3 linked regions of the Homo sapiens genome follow. The protein of the gene in region 3 interacts with the protein of the main gene of each other region in a pairwise test. Each region holds a gene or a part of one and is shown on either strand. Other genes may lie near its edges. The genes, in order: RASGEF1B, APIP and BAZ2B.

Evidence for each region.
Region 1: the proteins of BAZ2B (region 3) and RASGEF1B interact in binary tests that used the Homo sapiens proteins (3 or more experiments, as listed by UniProt).
Region 2: the proteins of BAZ2B (region 3) and APIP interact in binary tests that used the Homo sapiens proteins (3 or more experiments, as listed by UniProt).

What each region holds. Positions count from the first base shown.
Region 1 is NC_000004.12:81,458,198-81,461,948, forward strand, and holds part of RASGEF1B (ras-GEF domain-containing family member 1B), read right to left. Parts: intron 1,318-3,751; 5' UTR 1,312-1,317; coding exon 1,135-1,311; intron 1-1,134. UniProt on the Homo sapiens protein: Guanine nucleotide exchange factor (GEF) with specificity for RAP2A, it doesn't seems to activate other Ras family proteins (in vitro).
Region 2 is NC_000011.10:34,909,774-34,913,524, forward strand, and holds part of APIP (methylthioribulose-1-phosphate dehydratase), read right to left. Parts: intron 2,341-3,751; exon of another isoform or gene 2,200-2,340; intron 1-2,199. UniProt on the Homo sapiens protein: Catalyzes the dehydration of methylthioribulose-1-phosphate (MTRu-1-P) into 2,3-diketo-5-methylthiopentyl-1-phosphate (DK-MTP-1-P).
Region 3 is NC_000002.12:159,614,652-159,618,402, forward strand, and holds the start of BAZ2B (bromodomain adjacent to zinc finger domain protein 2B), read right to left. Parts: upstream 1,898-3,751; 5' UTR 1,591-1,897; exon of another isoform or gene 643-1,590; intron 1-642. UniProt on the Homo sapiens protein: Regulatory subunit of the ATP-dependent BRF-1 and BRF-5 ISWI chromatin remodeling complexes, which form ordered nucleosome arrays on chromatin and facilitate access to DNA during DNA-templated processes such as DNA replication, transcription, and repair.

The sequences.
Region 1 (3,751 bases), on a different chromosome or scaffold from region 3:
CACAATATAACACTATATACTTTTCTTTAACCACATTGTCTCCTAAGAAGCCAATAATGAAGTAGTGCTTATTTGTTATAATAATTTCAGACTCCCAATGAAAAGAGAAATTCCATGGGATTTTTCTTTTTTCCTTAGGCGCCTTTACTAGCTCATAAACACAGGGCTGAACAAGGGATTCCTTTTACTTTTGACTACAAGTTTTCCCTGTGTGGCAACATATCTGAAAATGCCATGTAACAATACACAGAGAGATAACTCAGTAAGAAACACTATGGTGAATTACTGCGGCAAGCACCAACTATCCTTTGCACACCAAGGTTATCATTAAATTTATAAAGACAAATGAATGTAGTCTCTAGATATTTTCATGAGATCTTTATCAATAACCAGCTGCTCGGCAAATCTCCTACTACTAAGCTCAATTCCATAGAGGTAGCTGCAGCACAGGGAAGGGGGAAAAAGTCACTTGTCCCAGAAAGAAAACCTGTGTTTGACTGCTGATGCTGGGAGTGGGACCATCAGCAAATACTCAACACTCTGAATCGTTTTCTCCTCTCTTCCCTCTTGGAATTACTGTAAAGACTGAGAAAATATACAACAAATTCCCTAGATTAGAAAGTGCTAGCTATATAAATGTAGGTTACCAAGGTAAAACAAAGCAACCATGTCATCTGATGTCAAATCTATAAAGAATTACATCTTGAGCATAAATCTTGTTTTCTCTTCCATATACTTTCCTTGGTTACATTCACTTTTCTTAGCATAGTGATGGTCTTGGAAACAAAAAAGGCATTACATATTCTGGGAGCATCCAATGTTCTCTGACATTTCTATTTAAGGACTAAGCTATATGCATGAATCAACTCTACAGATACTTCATTTAGATGGTATCAGACCATCTACAATGTTGTAACTAACCTGAAAAGAAATTGATACACATAGTATACCAAAATCTGATCCTTATCCAGGCTCGATTTGATTTCAATGCACTTGATAATCAATATGCAATTTCTTGTTAGAAAAATTCTTAGCAACCTAGATATAATTCTGTATTATCTATGGTCCCTGCCTACTGTACTGCAATTTCTACTCATTGCCAAGGATGTGTTTCAGAGAAACATGAATACCTACATCTGGATAGTAATCCACATTAGGTACTAAGTGCTGGATGAGTGCTTCCAGGGATCCAGAGAGGAGGTTGTTGTCATGGTAATACAACCCTCCACAGCTGTCCTCTGCAGACTGATAGAGGTTTCGATTGTAACCACTGCTGTCAAACATTGCTGAAAAGGGAGGAGTCTGAGGCATACTTTCCTAAAAGGAATAAAAAAGAAGAAAAAATAATGTCAGCAATATGCAGTATGAAAATAAAGGTAAGCTTTAATAGGCACTAAGATTTAATAGTAACGAGAGAATAGGCAATTAAAATAGTAGTTCAGGTTCTGACACAGAATCAGAGCCCATCAGGAACCAAATTGCTCTCTGAGTACGACACGTATGCATGCTTTTGAGTACCACTCTCATTCAATCAAATATCATACAATGCTTAGACTGAGGGGCCCAACCTGGACTTAAACTCAAGTCTCTGGCTGTCATATTTAGATGTCACTCCTTCACATCAGATTGTGAAAGGGGCAAGGGAACTGAACTTCTATTGCTTTATCGCATGGAGTCAACAATTTTCCTAAGGTGGAAATGTGTACACCTTAAAATTTGGTTGGGAAAAGTTACCTAACACTGAAGAGCTATCTGAAGTACTGGAAGACAACCAAAATTGAAGCTGAAAACACTAAATTGCAAAGTAGGCCTAGAGTTGAAGTATACTCTGTGCATGTTTATATATGTATATGTGTACACACAAGATTTCATGTAGACTCTTCAGTTTTCACTGAAAGATCAGATGCTGTTGATTTTCTCCCCTTTGTGTTAAATTCTCCTGGGGCTGTGGGGTGGTATCTGTAAAGCCTCAGTTCTCAATAAACATGCAGGCTGAGAAGACACCTGATTTGGGAGCAAGGAGCACTGTGACAGTCCTGAGATAAGTTGCTCCTCTCCATCTGTGTACTTTGCAGTTCACAAAGGCCTTGTCAGAGGGTGCTCTGCAGAGGCCAGAGGCTATTAAGTTATTACTTGAATTCCTAGGGACGGCACCCGGCCCTGAGAACAGACTCCCAGTCTCTGGCACCACGTCTGCACAATGGAGGCATTGAAGAGCTGCAGAGACTGGGGGCTTCAGAAGGCAAACAATGAAGGGGAGCCATACTCCAAGCTACGGACTGACAGGGACAGGGTGTGTGGAGGCAGCAGAAGGACATAACCTGGACTAATCTTTCTTTTTAAGATGCCAAAAGATATTTGCATCTCAATGTGGGAGGGGTGTGGAGCCCTGTCTAAGTCACATCCATCACTCCTTGAGCATCTGTTCCAGCTACAGCTGATGGGTACACAGAGCATCACATCCTGTGCATGTGCCTCAGCAGGGGGCGGCCAGGGGTGGGGCATTAAGAGAAAACATCCATCATAAAAGCCAACCTGGCAGGTGAAAACAGAATTAGATAAAAGAAGCATCAAGAAAAATAAATGGGAGATAAAAACCAACTTCATTTCTGAGTACTTTGTCCCCTCCACAAACCAGTGTTGAGGGACAATTTAACGGGATCCATGAAAAAGCCACAAATGGGAAGAAGGTGATGACTGAGAACCACTCTATTCACAGAGATTTGTCACTACTAGGGTCACTGGCCCCATGTCTCTCCTTTAGGTAGCACATAGTCATAGCAGCCAAAGGGTCAGGCACTATGGGATATAACATTAACACAGATGGTCTGCACACACCCTTAGTTGGCAAGACCTCACATGTAGGAACTGCAGTTAAATAAATAAATTATTCAATGTTAACATTTTATAAGGCAATAGACAAGGTATGTTTCTTTCCTCCTCAAATTGCCAGGTTTCTATGAGTACTACTCCTGTGCAATATAATCGTTGCAAACTGGCCATCCTTGGCGGCAAGAATAAGAGCCAGTCTGTCCTTGCCCTGAGAAACTCATAGTGCCCTCAAACGAGGAGGCAGGGACGTGAGATGAGAGGCACCTAAAAGTTCCTTCAGATAACTGAGAGAGAACCCTTTGTCTGGATTTGGTTGCCTCTGGCTTTAAAAAGTTTTAGATGTTTATAACCACAGTGTCCTTCACATGCAGCATGAGGAGTGTCATGCCCTTGGAATTGGGATTTTTTTCTTTCAGGAACCACACATTTTCCTTCATTGGAGCACTTACTCATTGCTAGCGCAACCATTCTAACAAAGTGCTTTTGGGAGATGGTTGGCCAGGATTTGGGAATTCCAAAAAATCAGAAAATGATAAATATTCAAAGGAACCACAGAAATCACCTGGCCCAGTATCTGGAAAACATTTCATTTCACTTTCCTTTCACTTTCCAACTGCAATCAATTAAAGTGGTGGTCTAAAGGCCTGAGGATGAGCAAGGAAAATATGGAAGCTGTAGCTCAGTGGGAGAATGTAGGTTGTAAGTGATTAGCAATGACTGTCAGACAGTCATGGAAGGAGCCACAGCCCATGTGCCATCACAATCTAGTCCAATCTCCTCTTCTGAGACCCAAGGGGGTAAGGTGACCAGGCTAAGATGACCCAGCAATGAGGCACATCGCTGCACTCTTGCTGGATGGAACTCCCCTGCACCAAGTACTCTCCGGCCAGAGGCTAATTAGCAGTAAGCACCAACCCAC
Region 2 (3,751 bases), on a different chromosome or scaffold from region 3:
ACGGGGAGAAGGAGAGAAATAATTATAGAAGGTGAGAGGGCTTGGAGATCCTGAGCTCTAGTGGAGGAACTGGGCTTCTTGCCTTTCATGAAATGAGAGAAGCTGGGTTCACATTCCAGCAGATTGGTAGGTTTTGTGGTAGGAAGGTGAGGAAGTTCATTACCTAATGACTTCTATTGTCTTCAGTATAAACAAAGTCATCAGCTGAGTATGGCAACAGGGTATGAGAGGCTTGACAAGAGAATAAAAGGTATAAAACAGTCATCTTTGGGAGTGGAACACCGAACTACTAGAGAAACAAAGATGGGCTGTTGGGCAGCAGTAAGTGACGATTTGAGGTTGAAATCATGAAGCAAGGCCAGACAACAAAGTTGTGCAATATTCTCCAGCAATGTTCAGCTGCTCAATGCCAGCCCAAAGAAATGGGTGGCAGGGTTCATCCTGGCTAAAGGTTTGGCTAGGCCAACTCCATATGTAAATTAGGTCAACCACGACCTTAAGTAACAACTGTTTCAATAGACTGGGTGTGGAAGCAAGATCGCAGTGAGCTTCACTCACTTTCATTTAGAAGTAAATGAAACTTGGAGGCATGGAGTTCTAATGACTCTTTCAATAGTGTTGCTATAAAGAAGGGCTAGACAGGGAAAAAGAAGGGAAAAACTGGTTAATTAAGACAGTTTTCTGTTACATGCTAACGGGTAACATGAGGAGACAGGGAAAGATTAAACATACAGGAAAGCAGAGGTCTAAGAGGTCAGCCTTTGTCGAGATAGAGAAGCTGGCATTAGAAAAACAGGAATGGGAGGAAAGGTAAAGATGCAGGTAAGTATGTAATAATATTAACAATGTAATATTAAATATGTAATAATACCACTGATAATAAGAATTGCTAACATTTCTTTATAGAGTGCTTATTTTGTGCCAGGCATTTTTCTAAAGCCTTTATATGGAATACTTTACTTTATCCTTATAACAACCCTATTGTACTAAGAGAGATTAAGTAACTTGTCCAAGGCCACCAAGATAGCAAGAGGCAGAGCCAGAATTTGAACCCAGGCAGTCTGATTCTAGATCCTGGTCCTTAACCTTTACATTATACTGCATGTGGAAAGAGGAAGACATTAAGAAGTTCACACCTAATAGCTTTCAGTTTCTTTGTGATTTTGGAGGCAAGGTCACCTTTGAAACAGGTGTGGGGTAAAGGATGAGGTGAAATGATGAGGTTCTGGAACAGCTACTTAGGGGAATGTAAAAGGAAACTCCCCAGAGGACTGTCACATGCTACTCAGAGGCCAGCTGCAGTAAGACACCAGAATACTTGTAGACACACTAATTCATATAGTTGAATATACCCAAAAAAGTGTATGGTAAAAGGGTAGGGGTTGGGCAGAGAAGGATATGACCATGGGAATGGGATGTTAGAGTGAGGGGGCGGTAAAGATGAACAGCAGTGATGAGGTCAAGGAAAAAAAAAGGGCAAGGTACTGGATGTACTTGTGCTGCAGAAATATCAAAGAAAAAATATTTGTTCAGTGTCAACATATATAGGACACTGTGATAGTTAAGGTAAAATTAAAAAAATAGAAGTAGTCCCTACCTGGTTTTTCTCTGCAACTAAGCAGAGAATGGGCTCTTGGTATAGCTATACCTACCACAGTGCTTTGCTCAATAAACGTTGGTTGCATTAACATCATATCTCTTACATTAAAAAAAGTCCTGTATCAGAGGTTATGGTATTTTGTGGACTGCTTCAGGCTCACAGGAAGTTGTTTATTTGGTCTACGCAATGCTTAGAAAGAGTCTGAGCCTAAATTTTAAAATCAAGAGATTTCATATAAAATCTGAGTTTCCAGTTTCCCTTAAAAAAGCAAAACTAAACAATGGGCCCATAATACTCCCACATAGCAAAAACGATCAGTGTTGTGTAGTGCTACCTCTTAAAACAGGGCATATGCTGGCCCTAGTATCTTCTTTTTGGTTTCCATCTGGCCAATCTAAAATGCCATATTCTCCATGAAGTCTTCCATGAGTCACTGTATGAAATGACCTTCCCCTCCCTCTATACTTGCAAAATACTTTGTCATCCCCTAATGGAACTTCATCCTTTCCCCCCATGCCCCACTGCCCATTACTGGTATATATTAATTATAAATATGCATTTGCAACTGCCCAAGTTTCTGAAAAATAGGAACAACTTACTCATGTTTGCATTTTTCAGCCTGGACTTCAATATACGGTTTCTGAGTAAATGCTTTCTTTTTTAGGGAAACACTCCTTGACTTTTGCTGATGTTAGAAAAAATCAGTTCAAGGGCCAGTCAGTAGGGATTTAATTTCAGAGCTGTAAAACCAGGTCAGAGATTATTGTCATAAGCTGAGTCTGACCCGAAAATAATACACTTGATGCCTGAAGAATCTTTAGAATACAAGAAGAAAGTACATGAAACATAAGTCACTTGGGGATGTTACTGCAAATGATAATAAAAATTATTGAATGGGCTACAGAGTGTTCAGAAAAGATATATAATATCTTTTATAATATGTGTTCAGAAAAGAGTGTCTATCAAAGACAGAATAATATAAATACACAGGTCTTGAGAGCGAAGGTTTTGGTGAGCAAGTCTTCCAAATCTTTATCTCCAATCCAGTTCTCTCTCCTAGCTTGAAAGCAATACCCAGTGTGATGGTTAATACTGAGTGTCAACTTGACTGGATTGAAGGATACAAAGTATTGATCCTAGGTGTGTCTGTGAGGGTGCTGCCAAAGGAGGATTAACATTTTGAGTCAGTGGGCTGGGAAAGGCAGGCCCACCCTTAATCTGGATGAGCACAATCTAATCAGCTGCCAGCATGGCTAGAATACAAGCAGGCAGAAAAATGTGAAAAGGGAGACTGGCCTAGCCTACATCTTTCTCCCGTGCTGGATGCTTCCCGACTTGAACACTGGACTCCAAGTTCTTCAGTTTTGGAACTCAGACTGGCTCTCCTCGCTCCTCAGCCTGCAAACGGCCTATTGCGGGATCTTGGGTTCACGTGAGTTAATGCTTAATAAACTTCCCTTTATATATATATTCCATTAGTTCTGTCCCTCTAGAGAACCCTGCTAAATACACTCAGTGTATAGTACCACATGCTGAGGCTGTACCTCAAACTCAACATGTCCACAACACACCCATCATAAACTGTTTCTTCCTCCTGTATTCTCTTTCTGGTGGACCACCAGGCCCCAATCACTAGATCAGAAGCCTAAAAGTCATTCTTGACTTCTTTTCTCACTACACACATCTAATCAATAACCAAGACCTCCTGATTTTACTCCCTCACTCAGACCTACAGCATCTCTTGCTTGGATGCCTGCCACGGCTTCCTAGTCTGTCTCCATGCCTCTGGTCTTTTTAACTCTAGCCAGCAATCCCCAGGCCTTCTTCAGTCATCCTGCTGATTATCTCATTGCCCTTAGTTTAAAAATCTAAGATTTGCTTAACAGGCCCTTTAGGTCTGGTCCTAGTTTGTCCAGAATTGGTTCCTTCCCGTGGGTTCTTGGTCTCACTGACTTCAAGAATGAAGCCGCGGACCCTTGCGGTGAGTGTTACAGTTCTTAAAGATGGTGTGTACGGAGTTTGTTCGTTCAGATGTTCAGAGTTTCTTCCTTCTGGTGGGTTCGTGGTCTTGCTGACTTCAGGAGTGAAGCTGCAGACTTTCACAGTGAGTGTTACAGCTCTTAAAGGTGGCACGCAGGTTGTTCGTTCCTC
Region 3 (3,751 bases):
TAAATAACAAATGACGCACAAGTTTTTTACCATTTTTTGCATATAATCTTCCACCTGTTACCAAAACATACAATACGCAGACTTCGTATACTGATTTTGAGAGCAAAACACAAAAATAAGCCACACAACTTATCAGTAACCTGTAAGTTACACAATCCTATAAAACAGGAGAAAAATTAAGCAAAAAATTTACTCTTGGGAAAATTTCTCCGTAAAGTTTACATGACGTCACTGGGCCCCCTGAACATTCCCTAAACTTTGAGACTTATCCAGACACACTTCCTAATACTTCTTTCCTTTCCTCAAAAATAAAAAAGAGAGAGACTTGGGAATAAAATTGCCCAAGATGGCGAAACGCTTGTTGTTTAGAGGGCAGGAAAAAAAATGGAGGATATTGTAATATACACAAAGGGATAAATTTCAACAACTCGGCCAAGGACTGCAGCTGCTTCCCTCTTTATAAGGAAGCAACAGACAAAAGATAAATACAGAGGGAGAAAGAAAAGAAGAGAAAATCTCCCAAACAACAGAGCCAGCTCTGACTCTTCAAACACTTCCTTCCCCTTCTCAAATCCCAATTCTGGGGTTCGTGAAACTACTTAAAGGGGAGGGAGCCGCGAAAGAGAACGGGGGCTGGGGGGAGGGGTAGCGACAAGAAGATTAAAAGAGGGAAGCAGAGGAGTTGGGAGCTGGCGGTCGTTCCCGGGGAAGAACTGCTAAAACATGAGACCAAGGCACAGACCTTACTGTATGAGAAGCAATGCTCCTCAAACCTTCTGCGTGCTGACATAGACCTTCCCAGGTATCCAGATCTTTTCCCAATCCCACCTGCCCCACCCCCACCCCCGCTCATCTTCAGTAAACTCAGAGCCTCCAGCTACACACGGGAGAGCTAGAGGCCCAAGCCGGGGAGTGGGGGTGGCAGACGCAGCTCGTCAGTCCGACAGGGAAGAGGGGGCGGAGGCAAAAAAGGGCAGCAGGAGGCGGACGGGGGTGGGGGGTGATCCAGAAACTACCCCGGCAGGGAGTGGGGGAGCAGCGGATATTCCGGGGTAGGAACGGCCATCGCAACGCTGACAGAGGTTGTTTTTTAAGAAGCAAAACTGTTGGCGGCGACCTGAGCGCTGGAAGCCGAAGGGGAAGAGGAAGGAGACGCGAAGCCAGGGCGGCCGGCACAAAGGCGGCGGACTCGCGGCGGCAGCGCCTGCCCGGCCGGGAGCACAACCCACGGCCCTACTCCAGCGAAGTCCCGCACCGGCTTCTAGGAATAAAGTTTACGTTCTCCTGAGGCCGCACCCCCCACCTCCCACCCAGGACGGCACATCTCCGTGTCCTCCTCCCCCAAACTCCACTCGGGACCCCGAGAACCACCCCAGCCTTCCGGCCACCACAACAAAGAGCCGCACCGACCGGCGAGGATAAACAGCGGCGGAGGGCGAGAGGGCGGCGGGGCGAGCGCCTCCACGCAGCAACTCCGGAGTCCCCCGCTTGCCCGAGCGCAGTTTCTCCGCTGCTGTTTCCACCGGCTTTGTAACACTGGGAATTTACATCCTCACCCGCACCCCTCACGCCCGAGGATTTTAAACTCACCTTTACTCTCGAACTGAGAGTTGCGGTAGATGGGATTTTTGCCTTTTCCCCAGATGGTTGAAGGTTAAGATTTTTGGAAACCCCACCACCTCCTTATTTCTATTATTATTTCTGCAAGAAAAGTATAAAGAGAGTTGTAGTGGAGGTGAGATTTGTGATCGGGAAAGCCTTCGACTCCCTCCTTCTCCGTCTTCCGCCTCTCTCTCTCTGATTAGTTCCTATCCAGCAGCAGATTGAAGCAGGAGATGATTCTTCTCAAGGTTTGTTCAGCAGCTTCACTTCTAGGCGAAGGCTTCATGAACCAAGTGACGTCAACCAACAAGGCTTCTCTCTCTCTCCTCTCTCTAACAATGAAAGTTGCTGTTAACAAGGGAAAAAAAGAGAGAGAATTGTTTATACCATTTCAGTTCCAATAATAAATGACCTATCAGCTCCTAAAGGAGCCAAGGGAGGGGGTTGCTTCTTCTTTCCAAGAATACTGTAGCTTTGAGTTTGCACCGTTCCTTGTCCCAGGAAAAAGTTAAGAAACTTAAAATGTTTTGTTTTGCTTTTAAAGAAGACAGGACAGAAAACGGGATTTAAAACTTAGTTTTTAAAAAAACAAAAGCTACAGAGTAGGGAGCATAGGTCAACCATCTCCACCTAAATTTTTTTTGTTCCTAAACTCAGAATTCTACAACCCAACTAAATTAATATGCCAAGATTTTGCGGATGTTAAAACTCAAAAAAAGCAGTATGCAAGACGGTCCCGGGGTAAAATTCTACTGCCTTTCCACGGACAAGTTAAACTGGCTGTAATGTTTATGCACTAAGTTAAAATAAAATTTAAATAAAAGACGTTAAAATAGTCGTTTTAAAGTTATATGCACACACTGTAAAAGGTAATCTCGATAGCTTTTTTTCAAGTTTCTGAGAGATTAGAAAAAAAGCATAGCAAATTGTAGGCACTGAACACTTTTTAAAAATCAAGTTATGAGTAAGACTGGTAGCCCTTTGCTCCTTTAAACTACAAATGCAGTCATATGCTATGGTCTACCCCCAGAATCTCTTCCAACTTTGTTTTTACCCTTCCACTCCCCCAACCCCAATTCCCAAATCCTGCAACCAATCAAGTTAAACTAAAGATACAATAGGCCCCATTCCCTCCCGCACCCCATCCTATAGATTCCTAAAAACAATTTTTTTAAAAGCCTTAATCTTGATAACACTTTATTAGCCAAGAAGATACGTATTTTTTTTTTTAGAAGTTCGTTGAGGTACCGTTTTTTCCCTCCAGAACACAAGAAAGTCTCAAAGTTCATATAATTAAAAATTGCATAATTTAATTTTCAGGATGAAGAGTAAGTAAAAATTAAGCTATCGGAGAATAATTTGATCATCTATGTATATTTTATACATATGTGGATAAATGTATCTTAAAAGATGCTATTGTTTTATGTTTCCTCTTCAGCCACTGGCTGTGATTTTAATTGTGCTGGAGGATCTTCATTAGTATTAACACATGGGGAGATTTCACAAAGCTGCTTCATTAGGAAAAAAAAAAAGCTTGGCAGACTCGGTCTTTTTGCATGCACTGAGAATGTCAGCCTTACCTCGGTCATTTGTAACATAATAAGTGCAAGTACAATGATTGCAATGCAGGAGCACTGGGGGAAGGGCAGAAATACTGCCTGTCTAATAGGGATATCTGAAAAGAAGGCTGCTCATTACAGAGTAAAATGTATGCTAAAAATTAGTGAAGATGATGTCTCAGGAGACTGATGCTAAATAAATTAATGTGCTGATATGTTTTTAATTATTATTTTTGTAGTAGTTTATTTCATTCTCAGGATTCACATTGAGCAGCAAAGCTGTGCTAGCACTTATTGATTTTTTTTCCCTGCCACATTCCCGGAATACAGATTTTAATCATTTCACTACACCACACTCAGTAATTTCATTAAAAACTGGAATCTTCCATCCCCAGAAAAGCATTTAATTTCAATGACATACAATTTCTCTTTTAGCAGCAAACTGTCTCTACAGTAAAAACTGGCCTAAGGTTCAAATGCATAATTTAATCCTGAGTTTTCCATGCTCTGCATTCCTTTCAAGCTATAATTTGAGTAACTACCTAATAACTGTAATAAGGACAATAATTTCCTTATAATATATTATTAAC